Regions from separate parts of the Homo sapiens genome. Here all the other regions are linked to region 3. The links come from fine-mapping of genetic effects on gene expression. A gene starts in region 3. Each other region holds a variant in brackets. All regions are shown on one strand. Distances are between the middles of the regions.

The links.
Region 1: its variant is fine-mapped to the expression of SYK in whole blood (TOPMed, PIP above 0.99).
Region 2: its variant is fine-mapped to the expression of SYK in whole blood (INTERVAL, PIP above 0.99).

The regions. Positions count from the first base shown.
Region 1 is chr9:90,892,967-90,901,151 of GRCh38, reverse strand. SYK (spleen associated tyrosine kinase) reads right to left here. Exons shown (of 14, transcript NM_003177.7): 14 at 2,603-5,624. The coding sequence ends at 5,552. Among named protein-coding and RNA genes, the nearest start is that of SYK, 95 kb to the right of the region's middle. The variant T/C (reference allele first, on the strand shown) is at 4,580.
Region 2 is chr9:90,881,079-90,889,263 of GRCh38, reverse strand. It overlaps SYK (spleen associated tyrosine kinase), which reads right to left. Exons shown (of 14, transcript NM_003177.7): 12 at 1,375-1,515; 13 at 637-749. Among named protein-coding and RNA genes, the nearest start is that of SYK, 83 kb to the right of the region's middle. The variant T/C (reference allele first, on the strand shown) is at 4,274.
Region 3 is chr9:90,798,655-90,806,839 of GRCh38, reverse strand. It overlaps SYK (spleen associated tyrosine kinase), which reads right to left and starts at 5,021. Exons shown (of 14, transcript NM_003177.7): 1 at 4,947-5,021. RefSeq lists silencers at 4,883-5,042, 5,063-5,272.

The DNA of each region.
Region 1 (8,185 bases), 94 kb before region 3:
TAGAGATGCCTCCCTAATTCTCCTTAAGCACATTTCCCAGTGAGTGTGGGGGGAACAGCACTCTATCATGCTAATAGGTATTGAGCACCTAGTGGTAGTGGCAAAAGAAGTCAGGAGAATGTTGAGCTAGAAAAGCTCCATGAAAAGATCTTGGTTGCAGTGCTCTTTGGAGCTATTAGTAGATTAATGTGCACTGTGAATGTACTTGGCCATGTTTTCTAAGTTAGTTAATCAGGGAAACTGCGTGCTGTAGAGCGTGTCTCCACCTTCCAGACTCATATCCCGGAAGACACTTTGTGAAATGCCTTTTTTGGGGATGCTCTTTGGAAATGTCAGGCCACAGGAGACAGAGCATGGAGCAGGAGGGGGTGGGAGGTCCCACAGCACAGAGGTGTTGGTCCCTGTTGCAGCCTAACACCAGAGAGGAGGTAATAATTCGGTAGGGTTGCTTGCCCAGAAGCAGGGATGAATTTCCACCCTGAGACCACCAGCGAGTAACCAAGAGAGGAAAAGAGACACGGCATTGTTTATCACAAACTAAAACATAATTTAAAAACCAAAATCTGCCTTTTTCAAAGTGCTCCCTTCCTCCCTAAAATGAGAATATATTTATCTATCAGTTCTAAAGTCCCCTCCTCATCTCCGAAGGACAAGCCCCGGGGTCTTAAACCGCTTCTCTGCTGCAGCTCAGGCTAGTGGTAAAGCCATCTCACTGCAGTGCAGTGATACATTATCACAAGAGTTTTTCCCTCCCTGGGGTTGAAGCCAAAGGCCAGTGCTTATTTCCAGAGCTGTCCTAGGGCCTGCGCCGTCTGCTGCCTGCAGCATTCCTCCCAGCAGATGGCCACTGGCATGAACAGCACAGACCATGGCATCTGCTGACATTTTTAGAATAAGGCCACTGTGCTGGCACTTACATGTGTCAGCATAGGCACCCTCAGCTGAAATTGTGGTGCTCAGGGGTTCAATTTATAGGACATGCCTAAGGTCAGTGCTGGAGCCCAGTGGTCTCTTGTGTGTTGTGTTCTTCTCTGACTTCAGGGCTCTTCACCACCCCACTGTATTTGGAGCAGCCCCCCGCAGGCCACTGGGCTACTGGGCAGTCTGTGTCCTTCCCATCTCCCAGCTGACCCAGGGAGCCTTGGCCCAGCCAACTTAATTGTTTCCTCCAAACCTAACTTGGCTTGGCAAGAGCAGAGGGGACCCAGGGGAGGCTAGGATGGAAGATTGTGAGGAGAGTCCCTTAGTGCTTGACACCAGAGAGGGTGGTAATGAAGATGGATACAGACACGAGGGTGTGTCCACTGCAGGACCACTGCCTCACATGGATTTTTAAGTGGTTATTTGGAGTAAGGTTCAGTATGTGCGGTGGTGTGTGCGTTTTGTGTGTGTGTGCTTGCGTGGTGTGTGTGTATGGCATAGTATGTGTATGCGCAGTGTATGTATGTGTGTGGTGTGTGAAGGTGTATGTGGTATGTGTTTGGTATGTGTATATGTGTACTGTGTGGTGCATGCATGTTCTGTGTATTTGTGTGCATGTGTATGTATGTGTGCCCGTCTCTGCATATGTGTATGTATATGTGTGCATGTGGGTACAGGTGTATGTACATGCATGCACATGTGTGCACATGTGTGAATGCATGTGTACATTTGTGCATGTGCTTATGTGTGTGGATGCATGTGTTCATGTAAATGCATGCATTTGTGCCCATGCACATGTGTATGTACATGTGTGCATATACATGTATGCACTGACATATATGCATGTGTGCATATGTACACGTGTGCATGCCTTCTGTGCATGTGTGAATGCATGTGTGCATGTGGATGTATATGTGTGCATGTCTGCGCATGTGTGTAACCTCCTTAGAACAGGCAGAAATTGGGGCTCTGGAATCCTTTCTTTGCCTACCGCAGTTCCTTTTAGGCTGTCTTCATAGAGAAAGGGATAGCTCAAAACCCACAGCCCTGCTTTGGCCTGATGGGGGATTTCTGGGTCTCCTCAGTCTGTCTTTTATTAGGCAGGCCATGGGCTGTCAGGCCCTGGCTGGGTAGATGCTCTGCTCATGAATAAAAGATAGAGGCAGGGCAGGACAGGGCCCTCCCTGATGGGCCTCCCCGCCGTTCTGTGTGGTGGAATCTCACAGTCAACTTTGACCTGTGCACATCCACTTTTTTTTTTGAGATAGGATCTTGCTCTGTCACCCAGCTGGGAGTGCAGTGGTGCCATCACAGCTCATTTCAGCCTCGACCTCCCAGGCTCAAGCAATCTTCCTGCCCCAGCCTCCCAAGTAGCTGGGACTACAGGTGCATACCACCACACCCGGCTAATGTTTTGATTTCTGCAGAGCTAAAGTCTTACTATGTTGTCCAGGCTGGTCTCAAACTCTGGGCTCAAGAGATCCTCCTGCCTTGGGCTCCCAAACTGCTGGGATTACAGGCATGAGCCACTGCACCCGGCCAACACATTCACTTTTTTGGGACATGGCAGGGACTTAATGTTTTAGAAAACATTTAGCTACCCCTTTGACAATGCTGCTTGACACTATTTGACAGTGTGACTTACCACATCCTAATAACTTCCATGAAAATCATCACAAAGCAAATTTTAAATTTTTATTAAAAATCACAGTTTTTAAAAATGTCCAGTGACACAATGTAGCTCTTCTGAAATGAATGGAAAACACAACACACTGCTAACCAGTGGAGGGAGCTCTCTGCAGGGCTGGGAGACCTGACAATGCAGCTGTAGCCTCTGCAAGTGAAAATCCAGGCCGACTTGCAGTCATTGGACTGATGTCCAAGTGCAATCACCATACAGCAGCTACAGGCAGGGCTGGCTGATAGGGAGTATGGGAGAAGGACACGCTCAGATGAAAACATGCATGCAACGATTTTCACCACTGAACACACTGTTTTCTGTGATAGAAACTGTCGGCCCTGCTGGGGGACAAGATATTCACGGCCTCACTAGCCAGTGTGATGCCACCAGGGCAGCCTGCCCCTGATGCTCCTTTGTTACCTGCTAAAGAAGGACCATAAGGTAAAAGGCACCTTACCTTATGGAGTGAGCCCAGACCCCAGGGAAAAGCTTGGGTAGAACAATCCAAGGGGCAGCCTGGGTATGAGAATCCAGCCCAAGCTAGCTGCTCTAGAAGCCTGGAGGCCTTTCCCAGCTTCCCAAATGTAGCCCTTTTCACATGACCAATCCTTCAATTAGGTTACCTTTCTCTATTTGCCCTCCTTGGTGGCTACAGGGGAAAGGATAATTATTCCTGACCACAAGACACATTTTCACTAGAAAAGACTTCCTCGTGCTGGCCACAGTGGGAATTCTGCACACAGGTGCCTGCTCCACCAAGCAGAGAGGCTCAGGAGATTGTCCAGGGACAAGGAGACCTGGCCGGACCTCTGCAGGGAGGTGAGGCCCCTGCCCCCATCTTGTCCCATCACATTCTGGATGTTTGGCATCCCCAGGCTCCTGGGAGGGGAGAAGTGCTGATAAAAAGGCCAAAAATCACACAGAAAGAAGACAGAAAACTCCACGCACTTCCTACATAGGTGCTACCGTATTCCTACGAGCACGGGGCCTGTGTTGAAGACTCCCTCTGGAAGTTACAGAAGGAAGCCACCAAGAGTTCAGCCTCACAGCCTCTTTCTCAGATGCAGTCACCACTTTACCAAACTTGGCACATCCAACCACTCCTTTCATAATTTTACACCTGTTTGTGGCCTGGCTGACAGATATTTTGTCATTGATCTTTCTAATTTCAGGGATTCTAAATGTGTTTTGAGAATCTGCTCAGCACTCAGGGATTCTGTCTTTAAAAATATGATTAAACCACCAGATAGTGTGATTTCAGAAAGTGTGCGTGGCTACCAAAAACTTCTAAACACAAGTTATATGAGTGACTCCTGTCTTCTGTGGCTGAGCTTGGGTACTGATTGTCTTTCTCCATGCCTTGCATCCCCTGTTAGAGGAGGGCCTGCTGTCCATGGCTGTCCATGCACTTTAAAATGTCTCAGGTTTAGCTGAAGACCAGATGGGTCCAAGTTTATTTATATCTGCTGGCATAAGAATGATGGCTAAATTACCTCTTTAAGTTGTTTTTTTGTTTGTTTGTTTTGACAGAGTCTCGCTGTGATGCCCAAGCTGGAGTGCAGTGGCATGATCTTGGCTCACTGCGACCTCCGTTTCCTGGGTTCAAGCGATTCTCCTGCCTCAGCCTCCCGAGTAGCTGGGACTACAGACACATGCCACCATGCCCGGCTAATTTTTGTATTTTTAGTAGAGATGGGGTTTTACCATATTGGCCAGGCTAGTCTCAAACTCCTTACCTCAAGTGATCCACCCGCCTCGGCCTCCTAAAGTGCTGAGATGTCTCTTTAACTTTCAAGAGGTACAGCAAAACTGAAATCAATGGGTGATGACTTCTTAAAGATCAAACATGAAGATGAGGATTAGTTAAGACCAGAAAATCATTCTCCGATCTTGTATCTTCAACTCAAATTCACACTCCAAAAGGCCTGTTTGTGGTGAGGCTCAGGGTCTTTGGCTTGTTCTGAATTAATACTTTCT[T/C]TGGAAACTCTTTAGATGGCTTTGATCCCTGTGCTGCCCCCCATTGCAGACACAGAAAGCGACAGGGGATTCTGGCGGCACCCTCTCTGTGGAGGAGAGGAAGGTGTGGACCACGTTCAGAGGAAGGCAGCCTGAAGCTGTCCTCAGTGAGATGCTGGGGGATGGGCCTCTTGCCCCTGCTGTGCAGCCTCCATGCAGGGCTTTATTTACCAGTCACCAGGTCTTCAAGACAGTCTGCAGGAGAGAGGATTTCAGGGGGAAAGTAAGCCAAGCCAATTCATTCTCATGGTCCCCTTTTATCACAAACATGTAAGTCTTCCATCTCATAACAGAGACAGCAAAAGCAGTATCCAGGCCTTTTTTTTTTTTCTTTCTTTCTTTCCTTAACTGGCTACATGCTTAGAAACTGCACTGGTCAAACTTGATTTTCTTTTTAAAGCCTCAAAACATTTTTATTGTCAGGAAAGCTTTTCAGTGGCCAGGGATCAGTCTCATGGCCGTAGAAGCAGCCAAATTCCTCTGCCTTTGCCTTCCCTTCAGGAGTCACATGCTAAGGCATCCTTGGGCATTTGGAAAAGGCCGCTTGGGGTGAGAGTGCTCTAGGCCACTCTGCAATGTCCCTGGGCCCGATGAGTAACAAATGCACCCCGGGACCCAGAGAAGTGGAAAGACATGAAAGGGATTTGGAAACAGATCGTAAAAATAACCTGTATGAAAATCACACAGACAAGAAAACAAACAAATCCAGCTAGCCCCTTGGATCCTGCCATCCGTCTTTTCTCCCGGGACTGCCTTTGCTTTGTGGAGGGTGAGTCCTGGGACAGGCTTTGGGTGACAAGTTGTGGGCATGTTCCATCCAAGCCTGGCTCTCCCGACTGGCAGAGGGAGGTGGCTGACAATCAATTCCTCTGGATACATTTTCCTGTGATTGCTCCTGTGATCAAAGGCAGCCACCGACAGGTGCGGGAGCGGTTAGTTCACCACGTCATAGTAGTAATTGCGCAGCCGCAGTTCCACTGCTGCGAATCCGGGCCTGTTTTCCACACTGGAATGGAAGAGATGCATTCTTGTTTGTCAATGTGCTTGTGAAAAATTGCTGATCACAAGCAGGGCCTCTGCAGGCTGAGTACCAGTGGTGCTGCTCCCTGGTGGCTAACTCTAGGGCCTGCAGCTCACAGCGTGGTCCCTGTGCCCCCCACCCCAGGGTGACCACAAGGCTGTCAAAAATAGTGTCGGCCTACTGTAGACCTAAATAACCCATATCTGCACTTTAACAAGACCTCCCGGTGATTCATGTCCACCCTAAAGTAGGAGACTTTTTGCATTAGAACTGGGAGTGTTTTAGCCCCAGGTTCAGATATGCGGCACACAATATGCTTCTGTGCCACAGGCAACACGAAGAGGCTGTCACTCTGTGATTTTAGCAAAACAGGTGTCTGAAAATACTTGGCAAATGTTCTGCAGATATAGTCAACATCTGACTCATAATCTTGTTAAGAGAAGAAATACGAACATAACTTTAATTCTCCCTTTCCACGCTCTAATCGATGGCTCTGGATTTTCTGAAAATGGGCTGTTGATATGGGTTCTTAGGAAAGCTCAAAACATGTCATGGCAGGAGCAAAGACCCAGGGCTTGTCTATGATCCACCTTAATATAGCCAGTCCTTACTGCCACTGCTGGCCAGGGAGGCACTAATGTCAGTAAACTATGGGCAAAAGCATTAACAGTTCGCAGTCTCTAAACAAACACTTACAGACACTTCTGTTTTGTCTTACACAGACATCCTGTACAGATCAGTTGGAAGTAAGTACTAAAACCCTGATAATCGATCCTCACTTAGAAGTTATTTTTCTTATTTTGCAAGATTTCTGGATATATTGCAAGTGGGTGAAGTTGAAATACAATAAGTGAAAAAGTGAAACAGAATGTGAGGTTAAATTGTAGGAAACCGTCCACATTCAGCCATTTTGACCTATATCAATGGCAATTTCATATGATTCAATGTCGACACAAGAGAACAGCCATAGAACGCGCATCAGGACCAAGACTCACTCATCATTATAAGAGCAGAGTGGCTTCTACAAATCAAAATGGGTAGCTTTGTCAAATGGCATCAAAATACATGGTTTCTCTTATAGCTTTCAATAGTGAGCAAAATGATAAAACTGCTCGAATTGATCAGTGTGGTCAGCCATCTGTGGTCATGTCTGGGGACACGGGCCTCCCAGGGTGTCACTGAGAGGGGCTTTGTCTCTGGCCACCAAGTGTGTTCCGAGAGGGGATATGGTGGCCAAGCCTCTGGTACAGGAGCATGTGTCCACCCAGAGGGACAGCCTCTGTCTTGCTCCTAAACTTCTACAGTCAAAGAGAACACACTTCAGCATCTTTGCAAAACAGGGGGCTCTGCTCCAACTGTGGGGATCCAAATGGTACAAAGAGCACCTTTGGATCTTGCTCTGGGGGTTCATCTGCCCAGCAGCCAAGGAGCAAACAAATGCAGGGAAACAGGAATACAGACTCGTCCTCAGGAAAAACACCTGGTCAGGTCTCCTAGGAAATCTCTCCTGTACATCCATGGGAGATGCTGCCTCCAGGAAGCTGGGACACAGCTGTGCTTCAGCAGCAGGAGGGTGATGCAGTGCCCTTGCGTGCCCAGCTTCCTGGCCTGCCCTGGCCTGCCACTCTGCTTTCGGGCCAGAGTGCAGATTCTGCTCTGCTCCTTGTACCCAGTGACCCTCCTCCTCTCCCCTCATCCCTGCACTCAACCTTGCTTCTTAGCCTGCAGGTCTCAGCTGCAATCCCTAAAGGCGGCCTATCTGGAGCCCCTGCTGGAAGTGTGAGGCTTCCCTCCCCATAATTTTCTGTTCTCTTTTAAAGTTTCCAGTGTGTGATTTTATATAAAGAGATATATGGTCTTTATCCTGGGTTCCTGGCACAGAGCTCCTAAAACCCTTGGAATTTCCTGATTGTTGGGCTGAAAGCAGCATCTTTTGTTACTCATAATAAACCCCCTTCAACCATACCTGGGTTTGTGCTAATGAGACTATTTCTCTCCCTCCCTCCCTCCTTCTCTCCCTTCATCTACCTCCCTCCCGCTCTCTCTGTCTGTCTCTATATATCACCTTGGAGAGAGTGGCTGTTTACTACTGAGGAAAAAATGAAAAAACAAAGCAAAACAAAACAAAACAGAGAATATACTAGGACCACCTGTAGTCCCTTCATTGAATCCACCACATTCTAGAAGCTCCAATGTGCTTCTGTGCTGCAGGCAACTGTGAGAAACTACTTCGACACGAGAGGGCTTAAAAAACCCCATATATACACGTGATATCCTCCAGGCCCCTGTGCCCTCCTTGCTTAGAATTCCCACTGGAGTCATCCCTTTCCTAAGACACATCATAGGACACACTTATTTTTAGCTTATTGTTTATTGCCTGTCTGCCCCAGCCCCAACTATAAGGTCTGATAGGGACAGGGTCTGAGGCTTCTGTGAGGCTTGCACCTGGGGTGGCAGCCTGCATAGCAGGAGCTCCGGCAGTGGCCACCGACCCTGTGAATGACCCAGGGCTCTCAGAGGATGTGCCGCTCAGAGGAAAGCCTTGG
Region 2 (8,185 bases), 82 kb before region 3:
ACTCCTAATTTTCAGTGGCAATGCATTTTCCTTCCTTGCTGAGCTGCCCTGAACATCACCTAAGAATAATGCCAGGTGTACTTTAAAAGCATAACAGCACCTGGGATCCACTAAGCGAGACGTATGACGGCAGTCAGGGTGGACTGAGGCCACCACTTCAAGGATGAGGTAGATTCTAGGGAAGTGCAACCTTAGCCAATGTATCTGTGAGCTGGCCAGAGTCCGAGGTCACCCCTCACTGCTCATGGTAATCAGGGAGTCAGGAAAGTATACCATCCCCTACCGAGTGCTTCTGCCATCCTCTATGCCAAAAATGGCATCCAGCCCCAAACTCTTACAAACACTTTTTTACTTTGACTGCCCTTGCCCCATCTCTCCACCATTATCGACATTTAAATTTGGACACTCGGGTTAGAGTCCCCATCTAAACTTGCTCTTTAGGCTCTACTACATGTAAGTGCATGGGCCAGAAAGCAAGGTCTCTAAAGCAAGACCAGCCCCCACCGTTGTTTGTTTAGAAAGCGGGCACATTCCTGATTCATGAAAAGGTGAACTTTATCCTTTTTTTTAGACGCCCAACCATTTCACCTGTTTCCAGAGCATCTGAATACATCACAGTCAGTGTCAGGTACTCACTCGTATGTCCAGCACAGATTCATGAGATCGTACATCTCTCTTGGACACCCTGCAGGGCACCCCATCCGCTCTCCTTTCTCTAACATAGCGGTGACTTCACTTCCTTTCATCCCCTACAACATGCAAGATATGCATAAGCTTTTTTTTTTTTAAAGGTGTTAGTCAAACAAAACAAAACAGCCACTCCAAGACATGAAGGAGTACACATTGTATGATTTCAATTATACGAAGTATAAAAACAGGAGCACTTAATCTGTGATGTTGGAGTCAGTTGGGTCACCCCTGGGGAAGGCTGTGTGTGCAGAGGAAACAGGCTTCTGGGGTTCTGTTCTTCATCTGGGGGCTGATTTCATGGGTATGTTTCATTTGTGGAAAACCACTGTACTGCATGCTAAGAGTTGTGCCCTTTTTGGTATATATGTTTTAATTAAAAGATCTAAAAAATGTAATTAAGATACTGTAAATAGTCATTATTTCTATTTCAACTCTAATGAGTAATGATCTGGGTTATATTTTGTGTATATTTACATGTGTTGACACACAATGGGAAAAACACACTCTTCAGTGAGCATCAGATATTTCATTCTCAGTTTGGAATAGACTGAGGGCACATTAACTGCTTACTGGTAAAAGATAATGAGAGACTCAGATTAGGATTTTCAGGTTGTTGTAAAGACAATCTGGTGCTTATCTGTTCTAATGGCCCCACAGTGAGAAAATGAAGCAGGACTGGCTCACTCGATATGGCTTCTGCCCATAGGAGAATGCTTCCCACATCAACACTCCAAAGCTCCAGACATCGCTTTTGCTGGAGAACTTGTAGTAGTTGATGCATTCCGGAGCGTACCACTTGACAGGCCACTTTCCATGGGTCTGGGCCTAAAAGCAAAGCAGAGGGAGAAATTCCATTAAGAATAAAATTGTGGGCCGGGCACATTGGTTCATGCCTGTAATCCCAGCACTTTGGGAGGCTGAGGAGAGCAGATCACTTGAGATCGGGAGCTTGAGACCAGCCTGGCCAAGAGGAAACCCCATCTCTATTAAAAATACAAAAATTAGCCAGGTGTGGTGGCGGGTGCCTGTAATTCCAGCTACTTGGGAGGCTGAGGCAGGAGAATTGCTTGAACCCAGAAGGCAGAGGTTGCAGTGATCTCAGATCACACCACTGCACTGCAGCCTGGGTGACACAACGAGAGACTCCATCTCAAAAAAAAAAAAAAAAGAAAGAAAGAAAAGCATAAAATTGTGTACATTCATGTTCATAGCAGCATTATTCCCAATAGCTAAAACATGAAAGCAACCCAAGTGTCCTTCAGCAGATGAGTGGATAAACAAAACACCCTCTATATAGACAATGGAATAGCATTCAGCCTTCAAAAGGAAGGGAATTCACTACAATATGCATGAGCCTAGAGGACATTATGCTGAGTGAAATTGAGACAGGAGAATAGGGCCTGGAGGCAGGGAACCTAAGGACTTCCTAGAACTAAATCAAATGGAAACACTTCAGCTATGACAGGAAATATCCTCTTCATTTACACAGGGTGTACACTCAGTAAATGACTTTGTAACATTACTTCATCCTCCTCATTTACATAGGGTGTACACCAAGTAAATAACTTTGTAACTTCACTTTAGCCTCTTCATTTACATAGGGTGTACCCTAAGTAACCAGTGAACACCTCTAGAGGTGTATATATATATATACACACCACATTTTCTTTATCCATTCATCCATCCATGGACAGTTAGGTTGATTCCACATCTTTGCTATTGTGAATAGTTCTATGATAAGCACGTTGAGTGTATGTGTCCCTTTGATACAAGTTTATTTGCCTCTGGATAAATACCCAATAGTAGACTTGCTGGATCATATGGTAATTCTATGTGTAGTTAGTTTTTTTTTCTTCTTTTTGTTTTTGAGATGGAGTCTCACTCTATCGCCCAGGCTGGAGTGTGCAGTAGTGTGATTTCAGCTCACTGCAAGCTCCGCCTCCTGGGTTCATGCCATTCTTCTGCCTCAGCCTCCCAGGTAGCTGGGATGACAGGCACCTGTCACCAGGCCTGGCCAATTTTTTGTATTTTTAGTAGAGACAGGGTTTCACCGTGTTAGCCAGGATGGTCTTGATCTCCTGACCTTGTGATCTGCCTGCCTCGGGCTTCCAAAACTGCTGGGATTACAGGTGTGAGCCACCGTGCCCAGCCTGTTTTTGTTTTGAGAAGTCTCTCTAATATTTTCCGTAGTGACTATACTAATTTACATTCCCACAAACAGTGTATAAGAGTTCCTTTTTTTCCTGCATCTGCAAAGCATTTTTTTAAAAAAAGTCTTTTTAATAACAGCCATTCTAGCCGGGGTAAGATGGTATCTCATTGTGTTTGTAATTTGCATTTCCCTGCTGTTTGGTGATATTGAGCATTTTTTCATATACCTGTTGGCCATTTGTATATCTTCTTTTGAGAAATGTCTATCTATGTTCTTAGCCCACTATTTAACAGGATTATTTGTATGTTTGGTTTACCAGTGAGTTTTATACTTTTGTGTGTTTTTATGATGGTAAATATTGTCCTTTTACTTCCACGTTTAAGATTCCTTTGAGTATTTCTTCTAGGATCAGTCTAGTGGTGATGAATTCCCTCAGTGTTTGCTTACCTGGGAAAGGCTTTATTTTTCTTTTATTTATGAAGAATAGTTTTGCTGGACATGGTCTCCTTGGGTGGCAGTATTTTTCTTTCAGCACTTTGAAAATGTCATCCCCTTCTCTCCTGGCCTGTAAGGTGTCTGCTGAGAAATCCACTGTTAGTCTAATGGTGGTTCCTTTATGGGTAATTAGAAGATTTTCTTTTGCTCTTTTTAGTATATTTGCTTTTGCTTTGACTTTAAGTGGTTTGATTATAACGTGCTGTGGAGAAGATGATTTTGCATTGTATCTGTTTGGGGACCTTTGGGCCTCCTGCATCTGGATGTCTAGGTTTGTTGTTATATTTGGGAAGTTTTGATCTAATATTTCATTAAATAGGATTTCTAATCTTTCATTCTCTCTTCACCCTTGGGGACACTGATGATTTGAATATTCAGTTGCTTTACACTGCCCCATATATCATGAAGGGTTTGCTCATTCTTTTTTATTCTTTTCTCTTTATTTTTGTCTGAATAGGTTGTTTCAAAAGACCTGTCTTCAAGTTCTGAGATTCTTTCTTTTGCCTGATCTAGTCTATTGGTGGAGTTTGGGATGTATTTTTTATTGCATTCAATGAATCTTTAGTTCCAGAATTTCTGTTTGGTTCTTTTAAAAATATCTATTTCTTTGATAAATTTCTCATTCATATCCTGAACTGTTTTTCTGAATTCTCTCTATTGTTTTTCAGAATTCTCTTATATCTTATTTAGCTTCTTTAAAATCAATATTTTGAATTGTTCATCTGGGGTTTTGTGAATTTCTTTTTGATTGGGATTTTTTTGCTGGAGAATTGTGTGTTCCTTTGGAGGTATCATATTTCCTTGCTTTTTCATGTTTCCTGTGTTCTTACATTGATATCTGCCCATGTGGTACAACAGTCATTTCTTCCAGTTTTTTGAAATTGCTTTTGTAGAGGAGGTCTTTTTCCTGAAAATATATATATGTTGTTGGGTATA[T/C]ATATGTTGGGTATATATATATATACACATATATGTGTGTATATATATACACATATGTGCATATGTATATATATGTATATATACACATATGTGCATATGTATATATATGTATATATGTATATATGTATATACACACATATGTGTGTATATGTATATACACACATATGTGTATATGTGTATGTACACATATGTGTATATGTGCATGTACACATGTGTATATGTGCATGTACACATATGTGTATATGTGTATATGTACATGTACACATATGTGTATATGTGTATATGTACATGTACACATATGTGTATATGTGTATATATGTACATGTACACATATGTGTATATGTGTATATATGTACATGTACACATATGTGTATATGTGTATATATGTACATGTACACATATGTGTATGTGTATGTATGTACATGTACACATATGTGTATGTGTATGTATGTACATGTACACATATGTGTATGTGTATGTATGTACATGTACACATATGTGTATGTGTGTGTATGTATATGTACACACATATGTGTATGTGTATGTATATGTACACACATATGTGTATATGTATGTATATATACACATATGTGTATGTATGCATATATACACGTATGTGTGTATGTATGTATACACGTATGTGTATGTGTGTATATATACACGTATGTGTATGTGTATATGTGTGTATATATACACGTATGTGTATATGTGTGTATATATACACGTATGTGTATGTGTATGTGTATATATACACGTATGTGTATGTGTATATGCGTGTATATATACACGTATGTGTATGTGTGTATATATACACGTATGTGTATGTGTGTATATATACACACACACATATATATATGTAGGGCACTTTGGGTTTGATTTGGGGTGAATGCAGTATTTAATCTATGTATAATTTCTATGGCCATAAACAGCCTCAGTGACACCTGTGATTTTCTCAGTGCCTTAGGGTATGGTTATTAGTGGAGGCTGTTGTGAAGGTGTACTGTGAATAGGATGCTAGGTGGGCCAGTCTTCAGACCCCAGTGGTGACAGCAGTGAGCTGAGTATGCCTGTCCTTGGGCCCTAGGGCGGTATACACTAGCACTGGTGTTAGTAGGTCTAAGAAGGCTGACCCTTGGGCTTTCAGGTAGATTGTGTGGATGCTGCAGTGGCTGGGCATGTGGGCAGGTTCTTGGGTTCCTGGGGAGTGGGTGTGATGTGGGTGATGGCAGTAATGGTGGTAGGGCAACTCACTGGAACCCAAGTGGTCCATGTTGGTGTTGGCGGTGGCTGCAACAGGATGTCATGCTCAAGTATTGGGGCATGTGACTAGGCCAATGGACTTGTGCTCAGGCTCCCTGGTGGTGCATTCAGCTGCTGGCTGTGATACGCAGGGAGGGGTGGTCTCTAGGTTGCCAGCAGTGGCTGCCCTGAAGGCCTACCACCAGAAAGGGTAGGGCCACTCTCAATAGGTGCAGAGTAGGCAGGTAGCTGTGGGATATGCAGTCTTCTTGAGCCTTGGTCCCACAGCAGCCCTCAGCAGTGGTGGTGGTATTTGTTTTTGTGGCATGTGAAAGTGCCTGGCCTCCCTTCTCCCTATGTGGCGGGGCAGTGGCAGCATCAGCCCTGGCCCAAGGAAGGACACAGACCTTTGGAGGCTTGGCTCTCAGAATGGCGCTGGCTATGGGCCTGCTCCTGGGGAGGCTGCGGACATTCTCAGGGGGAGCAGTGTAGGCAGGCAGCTATAGGGGGTGTGATTTGCTTGTGTCTCAGCCCCACAGCAGCCTGTAGCAGCAGGGGGATCTGTCCCTGGGGTGTGTGAAGGTGTCCATTCTCCCCTCTGTCCTTGGCCTGGTGATGGCAGCATCAGCAATAGTCCCAGGGCAAGATGCAGTCCTTTGGGGACTTGGTTCTCAGTATGGCACCAAGCTGCAGCTACTCAGAGCTTGGAAGCCTGTGGGACTCAGCGTGAGTTCCCTCTATGGAGCAATGCCTCTGTGTGATCCCTAGGCAGCTCCCTATGTTAGTCTTAAGGCCCACGTGGGTCGAGGGGTTCTTCTGTCGCTAGGATTGTAGAAGTCCTTGGCTGGAATGTGGAGCCCTGGGGATCTCTCATTTATGCTTTCCCCATATCTGGAAGCTTCTCCCAGCTCCCAGTCATTCCTGGCCAAGCAGGCTGCCTTGTTTCCCTGTGCTTTGCTTTTGGTGCTTCCTGTCGCTCCTTGGTTGCATCTGTGTTCTCTCTTAGACCATCTATTGGAAGTGTGAATATGTACTTGTTATTTTGGTCCGTCTCTACGGAGGAGCATATACTAGTTGCATTTAGTCGTCCATCTTGATCAGTTCTCCACCCAGGTCAATTATTTTAGCATGCACTACTTGCTAGCATCATTAAAAAATGATCTAAGCATTCTAATTTCCTAATTTTAAAAAGCAAGTGATAGTACAGAGGTCAAAACTGCATAGCAAAACCCTCTCTCTGGGTTTGGGATTCAGGGGGCACACAGCGGAGTCTGGTTATCTTCTGCTGATGTCACCTGTGTGAGGTCTCATTGGGGTGGAGAGGGGGACATGATTTCAGTGAAAACTGATTTCATGACACTACAGTGGATCACAAGGAGACATTCAGGACATCAATCTGGAGACCATAAGGTGCCCTGGCACTTCTCTTCCAAATGATACAACTGATTATACTTCTGTTTCCATCACCTTGTGTGCTATTTTAAAATTTTGATCTTACAAGTCATGAACAATACAACCATGTGTGTTATTTCAGGTTTCTTCTGAATTTTGAACTGATGAAAAAAGTAAACCTTTGACAAATCTTAAATGCAATGAAATTTAGGCTGTCTTCAGAATAACCTAGATACATGCATAAATAGGTAGTGTATACTTTTTTCTGGTCATAAAACTAGGGGCATATTCTTTGAGCACTGTACTTTTTAATTTTTCTACCTAACCATGTATAGTAGACATATTTCTAGGTCAGCACATGCAAATAAGTCACTTTTAAAAGGGTTGCATTGTGAGCTTCCTGTGAATCTGCTATGACTGATTGGACCAAACCCTGCGGAGCAGTCGTCAGGCAGTTTCCAGATTTTTGCCGTGGCAGCCCGTGCTAGAGTGCACATTACCAGATGTGTGTGTTTGCTCTCGGAAGGAGCTGCTGGATCAAAGAACACCTGTGTTTTTCAGTTGTGATGCTGCACAAATCTACCCTGTCACGCATGGTTTCCCGAGTGCCAGCGTTCGTTTGCTTCCACAGCTAGCACTTTTCTTTGATCTTGTTTCACTTTTTATTCCTTTTTTTTTTTGAGACAGAGTCTTGCTCTGTTGGCCAGGCTAGAGTGCAGTGGCACGATCTCAGCTCACTGCAACCTCCACCTCCCGGGCTCAAGCAATTCTCCTGCCTCAGCCACCAGAGTAGCTGGGATTACAGGTGCCTGCCACCATGCCTGGCTAATTTTTGTGTTTTTAGTAGAGACGGGATTTCACCATGTTGGCCAGGCTGGTCTCGAACTCCTGACCTCAGGTAATCCACCCACCTCAGCCTCCCAAAGTGCTGGGATTACAGGCGTGAGCCACCACGCCCGGCCCACTTTTTATTCTTTTCCATTTCACTTTGCTTTGTTTTCATACAGAAATCTTCCACTACCCTATCTTTTCGGTAGTTTTGTCTCTTTTTGCTGCTTCCAAGATGGCTTTTATTTCCCTAGTGGCTTTTTTTCTTCATTGATTGTCCAAAGACAATCTTTGGTTTACTTTTTAGTTTAGTTTACTTTTTAATGGTATGCTGTTTAATATCTACAGCAGTTTTAGAATTGGCCCCATGTTCTTTGACTCTTTGACACTTCTCCTCAAAAGGGTGGTTCTATCTATCCCATCCTTTGAAGCTGGTGGCCTTGGCTGCTCTGA
Region 3 (8,185 bases):
ATTGACACTGATGTAAAACATAGATGCTAACTGTTAAAGTGGAGTTAAAAACCATCTCTCACTAAGCATGATTCAGAATGCACCCTGATGGAAGAAATCATAAAAGTTCTATACTACAATAAATAAATAACCATAGAATTAAAAAGCTCTGGAGAAATATTTTCAATAATTATGACAGTGGATTTACAACAGGTAAAATGTAGGTGAGTGTTAACAAGAGGCATATTAATGCCACAGATGTTACAACAAAGAGTATGATAAGCAATTTACATAAAACATATTTAGTCAACAAATATTCCCCATAGGGCTGGGCACAGTGGATCATGCCTATAATCCCAGCACTTTGGGAGGCTGAGGCAAGAGGATTGCTTGGGCCCAGGAGTTTGAGACTAGCCTGGGCAATATAGTGAGAGCCCATCTCTACAAAAAAGAAAAAGAAAAAAAAAAAAGAAAAGTCCCACACCAAATATCCTCCAAACATTCTTCAGGTATTACTGTATGTATAGCAAGACTGAAGAGCAACTGTTAGACAAGAAGAAGATGGAGGGTTCTAGAAAAAAAGAAAGAAAAATGGAACCGTGAGATTACTTGGTATATCTGACACTGTAGAAAATTGTGTCAATAGGGCTTTCATCTTTATGTCAGAAAGTTGGGAAGGAAATGATAATAGGCACAGTGCAAACTAAGAAAACACAAAAACAAAGCAAGGGTTTACCCCAGGAAGAGCAAAAAGGGGTACGAGATAGAAAATGGAATGATATACCTTGCTTTAGCAGTAAACTATATTTATATAACCATAATAAAATAAACCAAATAACTTCTTAATCTCAAATGAGAGAATAATTATCCTGGGATGGTGTGAGAAGGAGTAGAAGGTGATGGTGGTCTAAAACTCCAAAGTCCTGAATTCTCAGTGTCAACAAACACTGTTTAAAATTAGTACACCAAAAAACTTTGAAAATATGCCAATCATAAGGAAATAGTGAGAATTCTAGAGGACATAACTCAAAGCAGTACCAAAGGATGGGCAGAATGAAAAGAGGAACTCATTACAAATTAAAATTAAACAAAAAGAGAAATTAACTTAGGTCACACCAAAACATTTTCATGTCAACTCAACAGGAACTGATAGATGTAATATTAATAAACTACCAGGTTGACCATGGGAAAATAAAGATTTATCAGTTAAGACAAACCAATGGAGGGGAGAAATGAAAGGTCATATGTTGAACATTCAAATGCTACTTATAGTCAGGCAGAGTATACTTAAGTAAAGCAATATTTAAACTGTGGATATTCCTAAATCTCTGCCCTGGGCCCTCCTTCTGTTGAATTTACTTTCTCTCCCTAGTTCACAGTATCCAGGTCGAGAGCCTCCCTCACCCTGCTCGGTAGACCTGCAGCTTGCCTGCAAGGTTTTCACTCAGGTCAAGACATCTCTCATCTGCATCCCAGGCTAAAAGCCCACTGTCTCCTCACACTTATGCTCCCTTCCAGCGCTCCAGGACAGCAGTAACTGGAAGCGCCTCTCCAGCTCAGAGCCAGGATCCCAGTTTCAGAGCTAGACACCTCTGAGCAGAGGACCAGAAAGCTCACAGTACTCCTCAGTAATCCAGTAATCATCAACATTCTTAACTGTCCTCGCTTGCTCCACCACCATCTGCCTTTGGCCAGCTGCCAGAAATCAATACGTGGTGTCCCAGAAAGAAAAGAATCAAGGGAGCCATTTGGATTTATTAAATGTACTGTAACATAAACAAAATATTCTTTCTTTGCATATCTTTGGTCTTGGCTAAATTCAACTGTCTTTAAGATTCCAGTTTAACCACCTTTTAAGAGATGTAGGGCAAACCTTGCACAATTGATTCATAAAGGAAAAAAAAACCTCAAATTGATACAAGCTAATATTGGTCAGATAAAATTATAAGCAAATAGAAAATGTCCCTGATAACATCATATCAAAATGAATGAACTTTCCTAAAATCCAATCAGACTAGTTCTTAAAACATCTTCCCACAATCCCTCAGTAGAAAACCCTTTTTTCCTAGTATTCAAATCCAACCTGTTCAAATCTAAGTAGAAGAGGAAGGTGATAAGACACAAATGAGGCAATTTGATCATAATCTCTCATTAGGACTCTGCCTTCTGATTTTAGTTGCTTTAGAAGAAAAAGTAATGCTCAATGTGTAGACTTCTAAAACAAAACAAATTCTTCCCCAAAGGCCTAAATTCCTGTTGTTGTTGTTGTTTTCTCCACCCAGTTATAGCTAAACCAATCCAGAAGTAGTGGAAAATGTTAAAACCAGCAAAGCAAGAGTAGAAAAGTCAGGGGGTAGCTGGAAAAAAATCTATACAGGGAAAGTTGAGAAAGTAAAAATTAGCCATCACTTAGGCTTAGATAACTGACACAAACCCAGCTGGTTGCAAAGTTAACAGGAAATAATATTTCTTCCATGGACAGACTGCAGCTGTAAAGGGTGACAGTAACCCCTCCTGTAAGTAACTTCTGCTCTGTTTCTCTAAAATGGTAGACTGTCAGAAACTATGCTGTTTGAAATTATATTACAAAGATGAGACATCCACTCTTACTTGAAGTACCTCTATTTTGATCGGTATGATTGAAAATTCAGTAAAATCTTGCTATTTAAGACTCCCTAAAGAGAGAGGAACTGCCCTTCTAATTACTGGAAAGTGTGAAGTATTGAACAACATAAATGCACTTTCCTTTTAAAAGCAAACCGTAGTTCAGTGGAGTCTAATACAGACTCAGTCCCTCAGCTGCAGCTCTAAAAAGCTCTGAAAAACAACACTTTTTTTTTTTTTGGTAAGTCTTAGAGAAGCTCTCGTAGTGATAACACCTGCTCTAAACAGACACACAGCTCTTTATAGTCTTTATTTATTCCACTTAGTGAGAATATTCATGTTCTTAAATGTAAAAGTACAGAAATATTAATGCATGGAATTACAGGATTCTCTCCAGACTATATTGGAATGGCATGTAACCAGCAGGGTCAACATGTATGTTTACCTTTCTAAATTCTGAGCAATGTCTTTCTCAGTTCTGAAATTTAGATTCTAAATTTTAATTCCAAATTCTGAAAAAGCTTGAATTCCAAAATACGTCTTGGCACAAGCATATTGGATTATAACCATGGGCAAACAATGTGCTAAATAAGTGAAGTTCTACTAAGAAGTCTTCCATTAAAAAAAAGCAGAGAGATTAGACCTGCATTTAGAATATTAAATAGGGGCCTAACAAAGATCAGGGTGATTCATTTCTAAAGTGAAATCTAGCAATAAAATAACGTTTCTACCAATTTCATCTCTCAGGAAAGATAAAGACCTAAAGTATACACCCCATTTTTATCCTAGCTTAAAACTTTCTAGTTATTAAGACTATTATAAAATCCTATTTTATATTTCACTTCAAATACAGAGGCTTAAAAAAAAATCTTCCCACAATCCCTCAGTAGAAAAATCTCTTTTTTCCTAGTGTTCAAATCCAACCTTTTCAAATCCAAGGTAGAAGAGTAAGAGGATAAGACACAAATCAAGTAATTTGATTATAATCTCTCATTCAAATACACTTTAAAGTGCACTTCAAATACAGGGGATAATACAAATCAATTTCTGTTTTAATGCAAGAGTTTTCTAAATACGTTAAAACAAAAGTGCCGTTCAGAACAAAAATGATTTGATAAAATAATTTCAACTGACAAAGATTTCTCACTTAAAACACTTAATAATTTACATGTATTTAAGCCTTTTTGAGAAAATATAATTCTATCTATGCACTGCTCGGACTTTCACTGGGGAGAAGGAGGACATCAATGTATTTAGTTGCATTTAATTAAAATGCTGCCTGTGTGAAGGCAATGAATTTGTCCCTACTAAGACAAAGAAGTCAGATGGTAGAATCAATTCCATTTCTTCCAGGAACTCTTAGGGATTAAATGGTTCCTTTTTTTATTTTTAATACCAAGAATCAGATATGGCACAACATCTTCAACTCTTTTTTTTTTTTACTACACGCTGCAATGCTTTGAACTCTACTTGAGTTCGACTGAATCTTTGCTAAGTCAGGCAAAACTCAAAAAATATTTTGCAACACTGTTTCCAACGTAAAAAAAGATTCAAACTCTCACTTCTCCAATTGTCTTTCTAGTCCTTGAACATTCCAACAAAAGAATGGATTGCATTTATATAGTTTTTAGGTGGGCTTAAGGTTTTGGAGCCACATTGCCAAAAACAGACAAACAGACAAAAAGAAACACCCTTAACTCTTAACTCAAATTTACATTTTACTACATAAAACTTTCTTGCTCTCCAAGTTCATTGGCTAAGTAAATTACTTGACAATGAAAATGTATCCACAAGAGTAATTATGCTAAATTTTAGTAGTGGTTCAGAAGGGTTGTTGTTTGAATGCAACTGCTGTTTCTTTTTGTAGTAAAAGATTTGTCTAAGCTCATAAGACGTCTGGACATTTCTACTTTGAGTAACTTTGATAAACACTGCGGCATTTTCCAGTGGATTCGTGTAAATGGCCAAAGGAAAATGTTCTAGCTCCAAGATCGACTTCCTCGCGCTGTGCCTGATCCCAATCCCGCGTCTCCCGAGGGCCGGGCCGCGACCGCACTTTCCGCGCTCCCTGGGGGCCTGGGCGCCCTGGGGTGCCCGGGTCACTTTCCGCACGGTCTGACCTCCGTCCCCTCCGCCCAGGCCTGAGCCCCTCTCTCCCGGCGCAGCTTCTGGATCCCGAGCGCGGGTAGGTTCAGGAGCGAAGCTGGCGGAACCCACCTGTATTTTATTCACATGGTTTCAGCACTTTTACCTCGGCCGATGAAGGTAGAACAAGAAAGGGCATGAAAGCAGCGCGTCGTTCCCCGTAACCTCCTCTCCTTACCAGAAAGTCCCGGCCGGGTAGGGGACGCGGCCACACCTACCTGCGCCAGGTGAGGCGAGGGCGGGCGCAGCGCGGGGCCACCCGCTCCTCCTCGCTCTCCAGCCGCCGCCGGGGTGGCCTCAGCCGCCGGGCCCGCGGCTCTTCCTCATTTTGGGCAACTTCCTTAACGCGCCCGGGCAGGCGGCCCGCACTTCCTCCCAGTGTCGCGCCCCGCCGCCCTGGCCCGCCCTGCTGACCGCGCCCATGAGCCCGGAGCTGGGCGGGAATCGGCTGAAGCGCCGGGCGAGGCCCGCGGAATCGGCCCAGGCGGCGGCAGGTGTAGAGGAGCCCGGGTGGGGCGCGCCTCTCTCCTCCCGCCGGACAAGGGCCCTTCGCAGGCAGAGAAGGTGGGGCTGCCCGGGACATGGACCGCATCGGTCCCCCTCCTCCCCGCCAGCGCGGTGGCTTCTGTGACTGCCCAGGACCCACAGACACCCAGCGGCCCTTTCCTTTTGCTATGCAGTGCCGGGGAAGAGACTCCACTGCATGGCATATTCCCTGGAGTGTATCTTGGTCACCAAACCAACAAGCTCCAAGCTACTGTGCTGGAGCACTCGGGAGGCCTGGGCAGTGCTGAGAGGGACCCTGTAGGTGAACACCAGACTTCACGGCGCACTAGTGGGCAATGGGGCACGCTGCTTCTGAAGGCTTTAATTATTACAAAAGGCTTTGCTTCCTTCTTACCATGACGGCTCTGACGTCCACAACCAAATAAATTAAACCTATAGCCCTAAGAATGGTTTTGAGATACCCGCCTGATACCCTTCTCCCAACCCATCCCCCTTTTCCTTTTGGACATTCCTCTTTAAAATGTTCCCACAAAACGGCATCCAGACCTTCTTGATAACACTGGTTGGCAGTGCCTGTTTTAAAAAGCTTTACCCTAAGCCAAAATGCGAGAAGCAAAAAAATATATATATAATGTGCTGGATTGTAATTGCCATGGAGAAAATATAGGGATGGGACTATTTACACTTATTGGAGCCCCCAGCCTTTTCTGCTTCCAGGGTTATTGGATTTTCATTCATTTTTGCCATTATTTTTTCTAAACCTGTTAAAAGAAAACTTCAGCAGAATTAAATTTAAAGCAGTTTAATTGAGTAATGAATGATTTGCGAATGGGGCAGCTTCCAGAATCACAGCGGATTCAGAGACTCCAGGGATGCCTCATGGTCAGAACATATTTATAGACAAAAAAAGGGAAGTGACATACAGAAATTGGAGGTAAGGCAGAGAAACAACTGGATTGGTTACAGGTTGGCTTTTGCCTTCTTTGAACACAGTTTGAACACTCAGCAGTGTATGAATGGTTGAAGTATGGCCACTGGGATTGGCCAAGACTCAGCTATTGTTAAAGGCACATACTCCTAAATTAGGTTTTCAATCTTGTCTGCCTATTAAGCTAGGTTACAGTTCATCCACAAGGACTCAAATATAGAATACAGAGTCCTTCTCAGATCATACTTAGGTTGCTTTAACAAACATAAATGGAAGATTTTGATAATGGTTATATTTGCTTATCATTGGACTTAATTTTGCTTCAACTACCCGAAAAAATAGCCATTGTTCCTGAGATGGAGCCTGCAGAATGTCTACAGATGGTTTTCAGAGTTGTCAGCATTATTGGAGATGAACACTAGGGGACCAGTGTGTACAAAGCAAACCCAGCCTGCACAAAGATTGCAGTTTTCTCAGGCTTTCACCTGATGGAAATGAGGGGGAAATTCTAGATCCATCTACAACCTCCTTCCTTTACACTGCTGTGTTCCTTTCCCCCTTTGAGTCACCTTCCGCATTACTTAGTATCATGTAGTAATTTTTTTTTTTTTTGAGACGGAGCCTCACTCTGTTGCCCAGGCTGGAGTACAGTGGCCCGATCATCTCAGCTCACCGCAAGCTCTGCCTCCTGGGCTCACGCCATTCTCCTGCCTCAGCCTCCCGAGTAGCTGGGACTATAGGCGCCCGCCACCATGCCCGGCTAATTTTTTGTATTTTTAGTAGAGACGGGGTTTCACCGTGTTCGCCAGGATGGTCTCGATCTCCTGACCTCGTGATCTGCCTGCCTTGGCCTCCCAAAATGCTGGGATTACAGGCGTGAGCCACCATGCCTAGCCTAAAAGATGGTTCACATTATGTATCATCAGGGAAATGCAAATGAAGACAGTAAGATATCAGTATGGCCCAAATTCGGAACACTGACCGCAGTGAACACTAGTGAGGATGTGAAGCAATAGAAATACTCATTCATTGCTGTTGTGAATGCAAGATGGTACAGCCACTGTGGAAGACAGTTTGGCAGTTTCTTATGAAACTAAACATCCTCTTACAACATGAGTAATTATAAGAGGATTGTCCTTCTTGGTATTTACCCAAAGTAGTTGGTATTTACCTAAAGTAGTACCCAGTAATTGTGCTTCTTGGTATTTACCCAAAGGAGTTCAAACCTTATGTTCACACAAAAATCTGCACACAAATGTTTACGCTGGCTTTATTTACTAAGTTTATTGCCAAAACTTGGACACAAACAAGATGTCATTCAGTAAGTGAATGGATATATAAACTCTTGTACATCAGTGTAATGGAATATTGTTCCACACTAAAATGAAATGCACTAGCAAGTTATGAAAAGAAATGGATGAAATCTAAATGCATATTACCAAGTGAAAGAAGCCCTCTGAAAAGGCTACATACTGTATAATTTCAACAGGTGATATTCTGGAAAGAGCCAAACTATCTGGATAGTAAAAAGATCAGTGGCTGCCATGGGCTGGTGGGGAGGGCAGGATGAATAGAAGGAGAACAGAGATTTTTTAGGGCTGTGAAAGTATGCTGTATGATATTACAATGGTGGATACACAGCACTATACATTTGTTAAACACCATACAATATACAACACCAAGAGGGAACATCAGTGTAAACTTCAGGCTTTGGGTGATTATGATGTGTCAAAGTAGGTTCATCAATTGTAACAAATGTACCAGTCTGATGGGGCTGTTGATAATGGGAAAGGCTGTGCATGTGTGAGGTCAGTGGGTATATGGGAAACCTCGGTACCTGCCTCTCATTTTTACTGTGAACCTAAAACTGCTCTAAAAAATAGTGTTTAATTTAAAAAAATAGTTTTTTTGGTAACAGTGGCAAGTATTCCTAATAGGCAATCCCTTAAAAGAATAAAAGCACAAAGGAAATAGAAACATCCCAAATTTCAGACATAATCATCATTACCGTTAGGTGACCCT